Linked DNA regions of Homo sapiens: region 1 is linked to region 2. Evidence: fine-mapped expression QTL. A gene starts in region 2. The other region holds a variant in brackets. All regions are shown on one strand. Distances are from middle to middle.

Region 1 (5,220 bases), 110 kb after region 2:
GTGTGGTGGCTGGCACCTGTAATCCCAGCTACTTAGGAGGCTGAGGCAGGAGAATCGCTTGAACCCAGGAGGGGGAGGTTGCAGTGAGCTGAGATTGCGCCACTGCACTCCAGCCTGGGCAAGAGAGTGAGACTCAGTCTCAAAAATAAATAAATAAATAAAAAATAAATGTGAAGCACTGGTAGAACTGCTTTGGATGAAATTATTTAATAAGCTCTCTTGGTTATGTTTTACTATACATTTGTAGAAATGGCATAAAATATGAAGCACATTTTTTAATCTAAAGAAAACTTAAGTAGTAGGTATAATATTGGACTGTCACACGGCAGGCAACACCCCAAGACATGGTATAAGGTCATAGCTGTTGAAAGGAGCAGTCCTGTTATAACACGGCACCCTGGAGGTCACCCTTATGCCCAGGCTTCTGAAATGTTAAGAATAATGTTGGAATTCCTCTTTCAAAACTGGTCTTAAAAACCATGTTCAGCTGCATGTCACAAATTAGTCTCCTTGCTCAACTTTTTTTTTCTTTTTTCTGTTTTCTTTTTTTGAGACGGGGTCTTGCTGTGTCACCCAGGCTGGAGTACAGTGGCGCAACCACAGTCCACTGCAGTCTTGACCTCCATCCTCCTGCCTCGGCCTCCTGAGCGGCTGGAACCACAGGCGCACACCACCATGCCCAGCTAACTTTTCATAGAGGAGGTCTCACTATGTTGCCCAAGCCGGCCTTTCTTATTTTTTTAAACAAGACGTTTTACTCTGTTTAATCCCAACTTGCATGCCAGTCTAGCTACAATGGACTCATGGTTTGTCTAAAATTCAGTTCTATTCTCAGAGGGTAAAATCTTCCATAACTGAAGCTATTCAAAGACTTTAAGATAATCCCCAACAATTTGGAGCAATAGGAGAATCTTTGAAAAAATAACACGGCACGCCCAATTCCTACTTTCTTCATTTGAACTGAGTGTCAGTTCTGATATGTTTGTTAGATTAAAAAGTAGCAGGACAACGTTATTATCACCTTATAGTTTGAATTTCTAAAGTCCACATATTCAGTGCTAAAGAATTATTTGGTTGTTTAACTGAACACCACACTCATTTTTTGGAAGGTGCAGTTTGCTTCTTAAGCCCAAAGCAGCTAAGCCTGAGCAACAGTAAGTGTGTGTGTGAGCATGTGTGTGCACGTGTGTGTGAGCATATGTGCACACATGTGAGTGTGGGTATGCGTGTGAGCATGTGTATATATATATATGTGTGCATGCTTGTATATGTGTGGGTACGTGTGTGGGTACATGTGTGCATAAGGTGAGGGTATGTGTGTGCATATACATGCATGTGAGCATGTATAAGCACATGTGTAGTTTGTAAGTGTGTGTGTGTATGCATCTGTGTGAATGCATGTGTTTGTATGTGTGTGTATGCATGTGTGTGACTGTATGGGTGAATGTGGATTTGTGTGTGCCTGGGTGCATGTGTGTGAGCATGCATGTGTGTGTGTACACACAGGTGTGGGTACATGTGTGAGTGTGCGTGTATCCATGTGTGGGTGCATGTGTGTGTGTGCGTGTGTGGGGGTGGAGGTGCGTCTGTGTGCATGTGTGGGTGCACGTGTATGTGTGGGGGTGTGTGTGTTTACACGTGCATGCATGGATGTGTGAGTGTGTACCCATGTGAGCATGGATGCTTGTGTGCGTGTGGGTGCATGTGTGTGTCCATGTGCATGTATGGGGGTGGAGGTGCATCTGTGTACACGTGTGGGTGCATGTGTATGTGTGGGTGTGTTTGTGTACACATGCATGCATGGATGTGTGACTGTGGGTGCATGTGTGTGAGCATGCATGTGGGTGCACGTGTATGTGTGTGTACCCGTGTGTGCACGGATGTGTGAGTGTGGGTATGTGCGTGCATTTGTGCATGAGCGTGCATCACACAGAAGGCACTGACTCTGCCCAAGCCCCTCAGTCTCATTTTCTGTTGCTTCCTCCAAAGTCTTCTGACGACATTCTCAACCCCTGACAGGTCAACATCTTATGTTTTTAGACACTGTTGAAAAGCACCCATTTTTATTGCCTCCCTCAGCCCCCTGACTCTGCTTCCATCCCTGTTACCCTCAAATCAAGGGGCAGTGAGTTCCCCAGAGGCGCCCTTCCCCATCACCAAGGGCCCTGACCATTTTCTGGCCCACGGTTCTGAAATCTCAGGGGCTCAAACAGTCCCAGTGTCCAGATGGACACAGACATTCTCCATCCACCCCTCACTCCTTCCCTCAGCTAAAGCCCACCTTTCCTCAAGCAATGGCATCTATGCGGCTCCATGCAGCGGCCTCCCCCTGCCCCCACAGCCTCCTCCGTGCACCCTGGCCGGTTCCAACCCCGACCCAAGCCTCCTGGCTGATTCTAGGCCTCCCACAACTCCCCCACCGGTTTCAGGCCCCCCCCCAGCATTCTAGCCTGTTCCAGCTCAGCCATGGGGCTTTGCGTCATCTGATCTGAAGGCCACGAGCTGATCTTGACAGAAGAAAGGCATTGGCCACTGCAAAGAGAAATTCAGTCCCCCGCTTATAGCAAACCAGAGGGCTGCTTTGAAATTAAAATCTATCCATCCCCCGTGCTTCCCCATCAAGGCTTTGAACATTTCAGGGTTGCTTTCACCCCAGCAGCCCCTGCAGGGAGGAGGCGAGCCTGCCTTCCCCAGCACACAGCCCACGTTCATTACGGTTCGTATGAATCCATTAGTTTACTGGCCTGGACAGTTTACTGTGCCGCCTCTCATCCCCAAACAGAAATGAAGTCAGCCGCCGGCCCTGAGGTCAGTGTGCCTTCCTGAGGCTCTGTGGGGCGTGGCTGGGGCTGTGAGGTCACCCAGGCTGGAAACTGATGAAACGGCGACCG[C/G]ATGTGGGCCACTGGGCAGAGATCAAGGTGTTTCCAGGCCGCTGCTTGGTCTCCCTAACAGATTTCTTGCCCACAGATGGGGTTGCTTTCTGAGATGTGTAAGGGACACAGGCTATGGTCTTCCACTACCCACCTTGGCCACAAAACCAGAGCTCTGCCAATAGATTCAGGCAGTGTGGCCTGGTGGTGGGCATCCTGCCAACGGGGCCTTTTCCCAGACTAAGCAGAGAGGGTATCCTGCACCTGAAGGAGCCAGCTCTGGAAAGCCCGTCAGCAGGCTAGGCAGGGAGGAGGGGGCCGTGCCTCCAGCGTCCCGTGCGCAGACAAGGACATGGGGTGGGACGCAACCCTGGCTTGGAGCAAACAGTGTGATCAAACACAAAGAGTCACATGATGGTTGGAGGTTGCCTTGAAAACTGGTACCTGCGGTGCTCTGGCTTTGTGGGTGTGGGTGGAAGAGGGCATCTGACTCTCGGAAGAGTGCCCGGTTCTCTTTTTCTACAGAAAACCAAATTGTGAACCCCAATCCTAAACTATTCATCTATCATTTCTTTCTTTTTTTTTTTTTTTGAGATGGAGTCTCACTCTGTCACCCAGGCTGGAGTGCACCGGTGTGATCTCGGCTCCCTGCAACCTCCACCTCCCAGGTTCACGCCATTCTCCTGCCTCAGCCTCCCGAATAGATGGGACTACAGGCGCACACTGCCATGCCCGGCTAATTTTTTGTATTTTAGTAGAGATGGGGTTTTACCATGTTGCCCAGGCTGGTCTCGAACTCCTGAGCTCAGGTAATCCGCCCTCCTCTGCCTCCCACAGTGCTGGGATTACAGGCATAAGCATGAGCAACCACGCCTGGCCCTCTTTTTTTTTTTTTTTTGAGATGGAGTCTCGCTCTGTCACCCAGGCTGGAGTGCAGTGGTGTGATCTCGGCTCACTGCAACCTCTGCCTTCCAGGTTCAAGCAATTCTCCTGCCTCAGCCTCCTGGGTAGTTGGGATTACAGGTGCCCACGACCATGCCTAGCTAATTTTTGTATTTTTAGTAGAGACGGGGTTTCACCATATTGGTCAGGCTGGTCTCCAACTCCTGACCTCAGGTGATCCACCTGCCTCAGCCTCCCAAAGTGCTGGGATTACAGGCATGAGCCACCGCGCCTGGCCTATTATTTATTTCTTTAAGGCCAAAATGCAAACAGATTCCCGCCTGCTAGTTGCTGCATGTGACCCTCAGCTGAGGGTGATGGGGTTCCTAGAGCTTGGTGGTCTCCAAGGGGAGGTGCAGGAGGACTCCAGGAGTCCCATTCGCACCCCATGGTGGGGGCAGGTTGTTAGGAAGAAAGACAACTTAACTCTGCTTCGAATTTTTTTTAGAGAGTCTCGCTTTGTCGCCTAGGCTGGAGTGCAGTGGCGCGATCGTGGCTCGCTGCAGCCTTGAACTCCTGGCCTCAAGGCATCCTCCTCAACCTCCCAAGTCGCGGGGACTATAGGCATGTGCCACCATGCCTGGATAATGTTTTTATTTTTTGTAGAGATGTGGTCTTGCCATGTTGCCCAGGTTGGTTTTGAACTCCTGGGCTCAAGCCATCCTCCCATCTCAGCTTCCCAAGTACCTGGGACCACAGGCACATGCCACCATGCCCAGCTAGTTTTTTAAAAAATCATTTTTTGTAGAGACGAGGTCTCCTTGTGTTGCCTGGTCTCAAACTCTTGGATTGCCTCAAGTGATCCTCCCGCCTCAGCCTCCCAAAGTGCTGGGATTACAGTGTGAGCCACTGTGCCCAGCCTGCTTTCAATTCTGAAATCCAAGGGAGAAATATAAGCTGGCAAACAAAAGTTTTAGCCATCCCAATTTTGGGCTGTACTAATCATATCCAGGATAGAGACTCGAAGCTAAAAGTTACCTTTTCTTTCACTCTCGTAATCCAGGAAAGTTCTAATTGGGACAAGCCTCTGGAGCTGCCTAGTGTGGGTGTCTGCTGGAAACTTCTAAAATGTCTCGGCCTATTTAATTGGAGAATTCACTGAAGAATTAAAGGACTCAGTAAAGAAGAGGTTTGGTTTGTTCATGAAAGTAAGTAGCTTGTGAAATGCTTTATTTTCCTGTGACTAAAATTCCACCTTGTAATTCCCAATAAGGATTGCTTCAAGCTATTTAATACAAATTAAACCTGTTTCACCATGCTCATAGGAAAATGTCAAAGTATCTTCATTCACCAACTGAGGGCTGGCTCTTCTTTGAAGGTAGCTCTGAGATTTGTTTTGTAATGGAGACAAAGACTTATTTAACTGTTGGGGAGGGGGAAGGAGGACTTAGGCCAGGCAGGCGGGGAT
Region 2 (5,220 bases):
ACTGCAAGGATCCACAGTGTGAGGAAGCTTCCTTTGTGCTGTGACCCGCACTCACCTGAACACATCATTCCAATACTCCTTTACGTAGGACACTTGATGGAAAGGGATGTCTAAGATCTGGCAAACTCTGTAAGCATCTTCACAGTCTTTGTCGGCAGTACAGACCCCATGTTCATCCAGTGAGTCCCAGTTCTTCATAAACACCCCTGTCACCTGGTAACCTGCGGGCGGGAAGGTCAATTAAAGAGAATACATAAATCAACCTTCGGTAAAACGGCAGTGATTTCTGAGCTCTGAGAAGTTCCCCACACGCTGTGCTCCTGTGCCTCTGTGCCTGGCCTGCCGGGCAGTCCCTGCTTTGCCATGTGGCTTCAGGGATCCGGTTTCCATCTTGGTGCCTGAGTCCCCAAGATTAACGAGGTGGTATTTTCTCATCTTTGTGTCCCCATCTATGTATCAGCACAATACCTAGCAGGAGGGGATCAGCCAGTGTGTGTGGAATACACGAAGGAATAGTCGAAACTCAACAAAATTTTTCAAAGCACCATTCAGTTATCAAAAAAGGAAACTCTTTTCAAAAGTTATTTCTAGTTACTATCTAAGACTTAGATTCTAAGTGATCAGATATAAAGATAATTAAAATTTTCGATATTTTGTAAGAGCTGTACCACCTAGTTTATGACCTATTTTCTACCTTTTCGATTGTAACAAAATATTCACCCAAATATTGGAAAGGCCAACTTTAGCCCTACACCACCTTAGCAAACTACACAGGTGCAGACCCTGTATGAGAAAGCTGGTTCGTTTAGGTAGGCTGAATGTAATGAAAGACAGGGCAAATGACTGCTGAAGAAGGCTTCATATAGTACCCAAAACAACAGAAATTTGATGACAAAGCTTTGTCAAAACTACACCACCACACGCGAAAGACCACCCCTATCCCAGATCAACCAGACTAATGTCTACCTAACAGTCTAAAGCCCCTGGTATAGCATCTTCCATAATCAGGGCTAAACGTGCTCCAGGCTCCTCTCCTTCCATCTCCATCTGGCCAGAACCAGCCCACACTTGCAGGCCTCTGTGATTCTGCTTGCACTGCTGACTGTGCCGGGAGGGCCGCCTCCACCTCCAAGTCTCTGCTTAGTGACATCCTACTCTTCTTTCGACTCAGCTGAGCACCTCCATCTCTAGGATGCTTTCCTCCACTCTCCCTTCCTCACAACTATTTCTGCTTATGGTCCGCCTACCCTTCTCTTTGGCACTTACTGTACCTACCATAATAGCTATGGTTATTAACAATATAAACTAATAGCCACTACTGTTTTCTGCGTACCTCGTATGTGCTGAGCACGTACTCATCAGTATGTACTATGTCATCTAATCCCTCCAGTCACCCCGTGAGGCAGGTGTTAGCCGAATTTTACAGGGGACGGCTTAATTCACTTGCCCAAGGTCAGGAGCCAAAGATGGCGCAAAGCAGAGCTCCACAAACGTGACTCTGTGAATGAGGCCTCCCGCGGGGAGCCACACAGGTGAAGTTAAACAAGTGCTCATTTCAGCGCCGGGCCCGAGGAATGCTAAGCACCCGTGGGGCTCCGTTTAGATGCCGGAAGAAATGCAAATGCTCCTGGAGAAAACTTTGTCCTCCAGCGAGCGGAGAACACAGGAGACGCTGAACAAGCAGACCCGCCGCGCGGCAGTTGTCCAGTCTGCTGAGTGGGGAGGACAAGGACCTCCCACCGGGCGGCCACAGCGTGTGCAGAGGTCAGGCCCCCGGCCCGGCGATCCCAGCTCCCCTCACCAGTGTCCACGGTCTCACAGGTGAATGTGGACGCCGCAGATCCGTGAGAAACCCTTCCCTCCCCACCCCACCCCGGCCCGCCGGCTTCTCACTGTGGGTGGGCGCGCGTGGGTGGAGAGGGGCGCGGAACTGCTCCCAGGTAGTCGGAGCTGCAGTCGCGCACACCTCCGACTACACAGGTGGAGGGCGAGGAGCCTCCGAACCAAAGTCAGAGGACGGGGTATCCTCCTGCCGACCCGCGCGCAACCAGCGGCCCAGGGAGGGAGGAGACGTGCACAACGCCACGACGGACGGGGACAGGTTTCCGGGGACACATTCGCTCGGCGGGGGGCGGGAGCCTCGGACGCCTCACCTCTCCGCCTCAGCAGCAGCGCGGCCACGGCGCTGTCCACGCCGCCGGACAGGGCGCACACGACGTGCCGCAAGGCCTGCATCCGCCAGTCGCCCAACTTCGCCAGCTGCAGCTACCGCCGCTTCCGCGCCTTGCCGGAAGTCCCGCCCCGGCCGTAGGGTCCGCGCTAGTGGCCCGGCCGGAAGCTGCGGCAGCTTACCCGCGTTCCGTCCGGCCTTCCCCTGTCCCGCGGCGGGTTCCCCTGTCTCCGGCCTGCGCTCACCCCTGAGGCTCCACCGACCCGCGGGGCGCCGAGACTCTGTCGGGCCGCGAGGGGCTGGCTTTTTTTTTGAGCCGCCGCCTTGCCCTCCCCACCCGCGCCCCGGCCTCACTGCTCTTCTTCTGCGCTGTAAACCAAAAATAAAATTCTAAGCCCCCCAGCCAGCCATTGGAGGCCTCCTCTCGGCCAAGGGCGTCCTAGAGGGAACCTGAACCGCGAGTTCGGGCTCTGATGGGAAAGGCCGGGTGGGACCCGCCTCACTAGACCCTCCTCCTCCCTTTGGAATTCGGACCAGCATTAACGTCAAAACAGACTTAAGACTGTCTAGGCGGACTCTCCGTAGCAATAGGATACCGACATGACAGATGGCAGGCCCTGAAAGATATCGAAGTATTTTACAGTATTTTAATTTAATTTAATTTTTAATTAATTAAATTTTTTTGAGATGGAGTTTTGCTCTGTCGCAGGCTGGAGTGTAGTGGGCGCGACCTCGGCTCACTGCAACCTTCACCTCCAAGATTCAAGCGATTCTCCTGCCTCAGCCTCCCTAGTAGCTGCGATTACAGGCGCCCGCCACCAAGCCCAGCTAATTTTTGTATTTTTAGTAGAGACGGGGTTTCACCGTATTTGCCAGGCTGGTCTCTCACTCCTGACCTCAAGGGATCCGCCCACCTCAGCCTCCCAAAGTGGCGGGATTACAGGTGTGAGTCACTGCCCCCGGCCCAGAAAATCTTTGAATCCACCTATGACCTGGAAGCCCCACCCCACCTTCGAGTTGTCCCACCTTTCCGGAACCAATGTTACATCTTACATGTATTGATTTATGGCTTATGTCTCCCTAAAACGTACGAAACCAAAAGCTGTAGCACCACCAGTTTGAGCACGTGTTCTCAGGATCTCCTGGGACTATGACATGAATAAATATCTTCAAATCTTTTACAGTTTGACTCCAAGCATACTCAGCACTCAATCCTTAATGTCTGTGAGGTGTGTTGGACAGGGGTTTTGTGTTCTGTCCACTCCTACTCCATGCCCAGAAAAGCCCCTGGCCCAGGGCAGGTGCTTCATAACCTCGCTGAATAAAGGAAGGAGGAGAGAATGGAGGTCATCCCCCAGGGGTGATATTCAAGCTGAGTTCTTCTCTACGAGTTAGCATCTAGACAAGGTCTACCTAAAGCACAGGGAGACTCTGAACGAAAAAGATGTTCATTTGTGAATAGGGCATTGCAATGGGAATATGCATGCCACAATAAGCTATGTGGGTATTCAGGGAAGTAAAGGAAGACAAAGGTTTTTATTTTATTTATTTATTTTTTTGAGACAGTCTCACTTGGTCACTAGGCTGGAGTGCAGTGGCGTGATCTTAGCTCACTGCAACCTCCGCCTCCCGGGTTTAAGCGATTCTCCTGCCTCAGCCTCCGGAGTAGCTGGGATTACAGGCACATGCCACCACACCCAGCTAATTTTTGTATTTTTAGTAGAGACGGCATTTCACCATGTTGGCCAGGATGGTCTTGATCTCCTGACCTTGTGATCCGCCCGCCTCGGCCTCCCAAAGTGCTGGGATTACACGCGTGAGCCACAGTGCCCGGCCTAGGAAGACAAAGGTTTTTAAAGGGAAAATGAGGATCACATCATTGTTTTGAGATAATTCTTTGGCTACAAAGATCAATAACAAGGGTGACAGCACTCCAGGGTTGGACAAGCAGTTGCTGGGCAGATGTCCTTGCAACAGAAGTTTTTTGTTTTTTTTTTTTTTTTGAGGAAGGTTACGATAGCCTTTGTGTAAAGTTGTGGTTTTTGCAGTCTTTTGTGATAGTTGTTATTATTAGGCACATGTGCATGAGAACCCTCCCTTGTGGTATGAACCCAAAGTACCTGAGACAGGTTTCAATTTAGAAAGTTTATTTTGCCAAGGTTAAGGACATGCCAGTGACACAGCCTCAGGATGATGTCCTGAGGATATGTGCCCAAGGTGGTCGAGGCACAGCTTGCTTTGATACATATTAGGGAGACACAGGACATCAATTAATACGTGTAAGATGTACACTGGTTCTGTCTGGAAAGGCGCAACAACTGGGGGTGGTGGGCAGCTCGCAGGTCATAGGTAGATAAGAGATAAACTGTTGCATTCCTTTGGGTCTTTGATCAGCCTTTCACTGAATACACAATCTCCATGTGAGAGGCAGGTAGAGGAACAGTCACTGATGCCTTAGTCTGGCTCAGTGAATCTGCATTTTCACATAAACAATAGGGCAGAGGAAGCAATCAGACATGCATTTGTCTCAGGTGAGCAGAGGACTGATGGTGAGTTGTCCATTGTCTGGCATCTGTGAAGATAAGCTATCAATTTACATTGCCAGGGTGAAATTCAACAGAACTATTTTAGGGTAAAGATCTCGAGGTCCACGAGGAATTTCCAAGAAGAAAAGCAGGAACTACCAACAGGAGAGCCCTGGGGACTGGTGCCAGGAGGAGCTGCAAGACAGGAGGGAGGTCACAGGGCCTGTGGGGAAAAGGATGACCACTTTTTCAGAATAAAGGATCAGGAAAATACCCAACAGGAGGGCAATTTCATCTTGCATTTCCCGGAAGAGATAAGGAAATCCAGTATCTGGGCAGCTGAGTTTGTGCAGATTTAGAGGTACACGTTTAGGCTGTGTCTAAACTTGAGTCTGGGTCTGGGGGCAGGCCCTCCTTGGGTGTGGCAGGCTGATCTAAGGTTATGGCAGGTTAAGTCCCAGTTGCAGCCAACCCGCAAAATGGCTGAGATCCATGCTCACATATTTTCTGCTACTTTTTGGTTAA

What was found. PIP is the estimated chance that this variant, and not a neighbour inherited with it, causes the effect.
Region 1: its variant is the best candidate, but not a certain one, in a credible set for the expression of TRMU in testis (GTEx, PIP 0.84).

What each region holds. Positions count from the first base shown.
Region 1 is chr22:46,222,191-46,227,410 of GRCh38, reverse strand. All of the region lies in intron 7 of PPARA (peroxisome proliferator activated receptor alpha), which reads right to left. Among named protein-coding and RNA genes, the nearest start is that of CDPF1, 25 kb to the left of the region's middle. The variant C/G (reference allele first, on the strand shown) is at 2,892.
Region 2 is chr22:46,332,780-46,337,999 of GRCh38, reverse strand. TRMU (tRNA mitochondrial 2-thiouridylase) reads right to left here and starts at 2,286. Exons shown (of 11, transcript NM_018006.5): 1 at 2,154-2,286; 2 at 56-221. The coding sequence starts at 2,235. RefSeq lists a silencer at 1,839-1,888 and enhancers at 1,697-2,196, 2,029-2,248.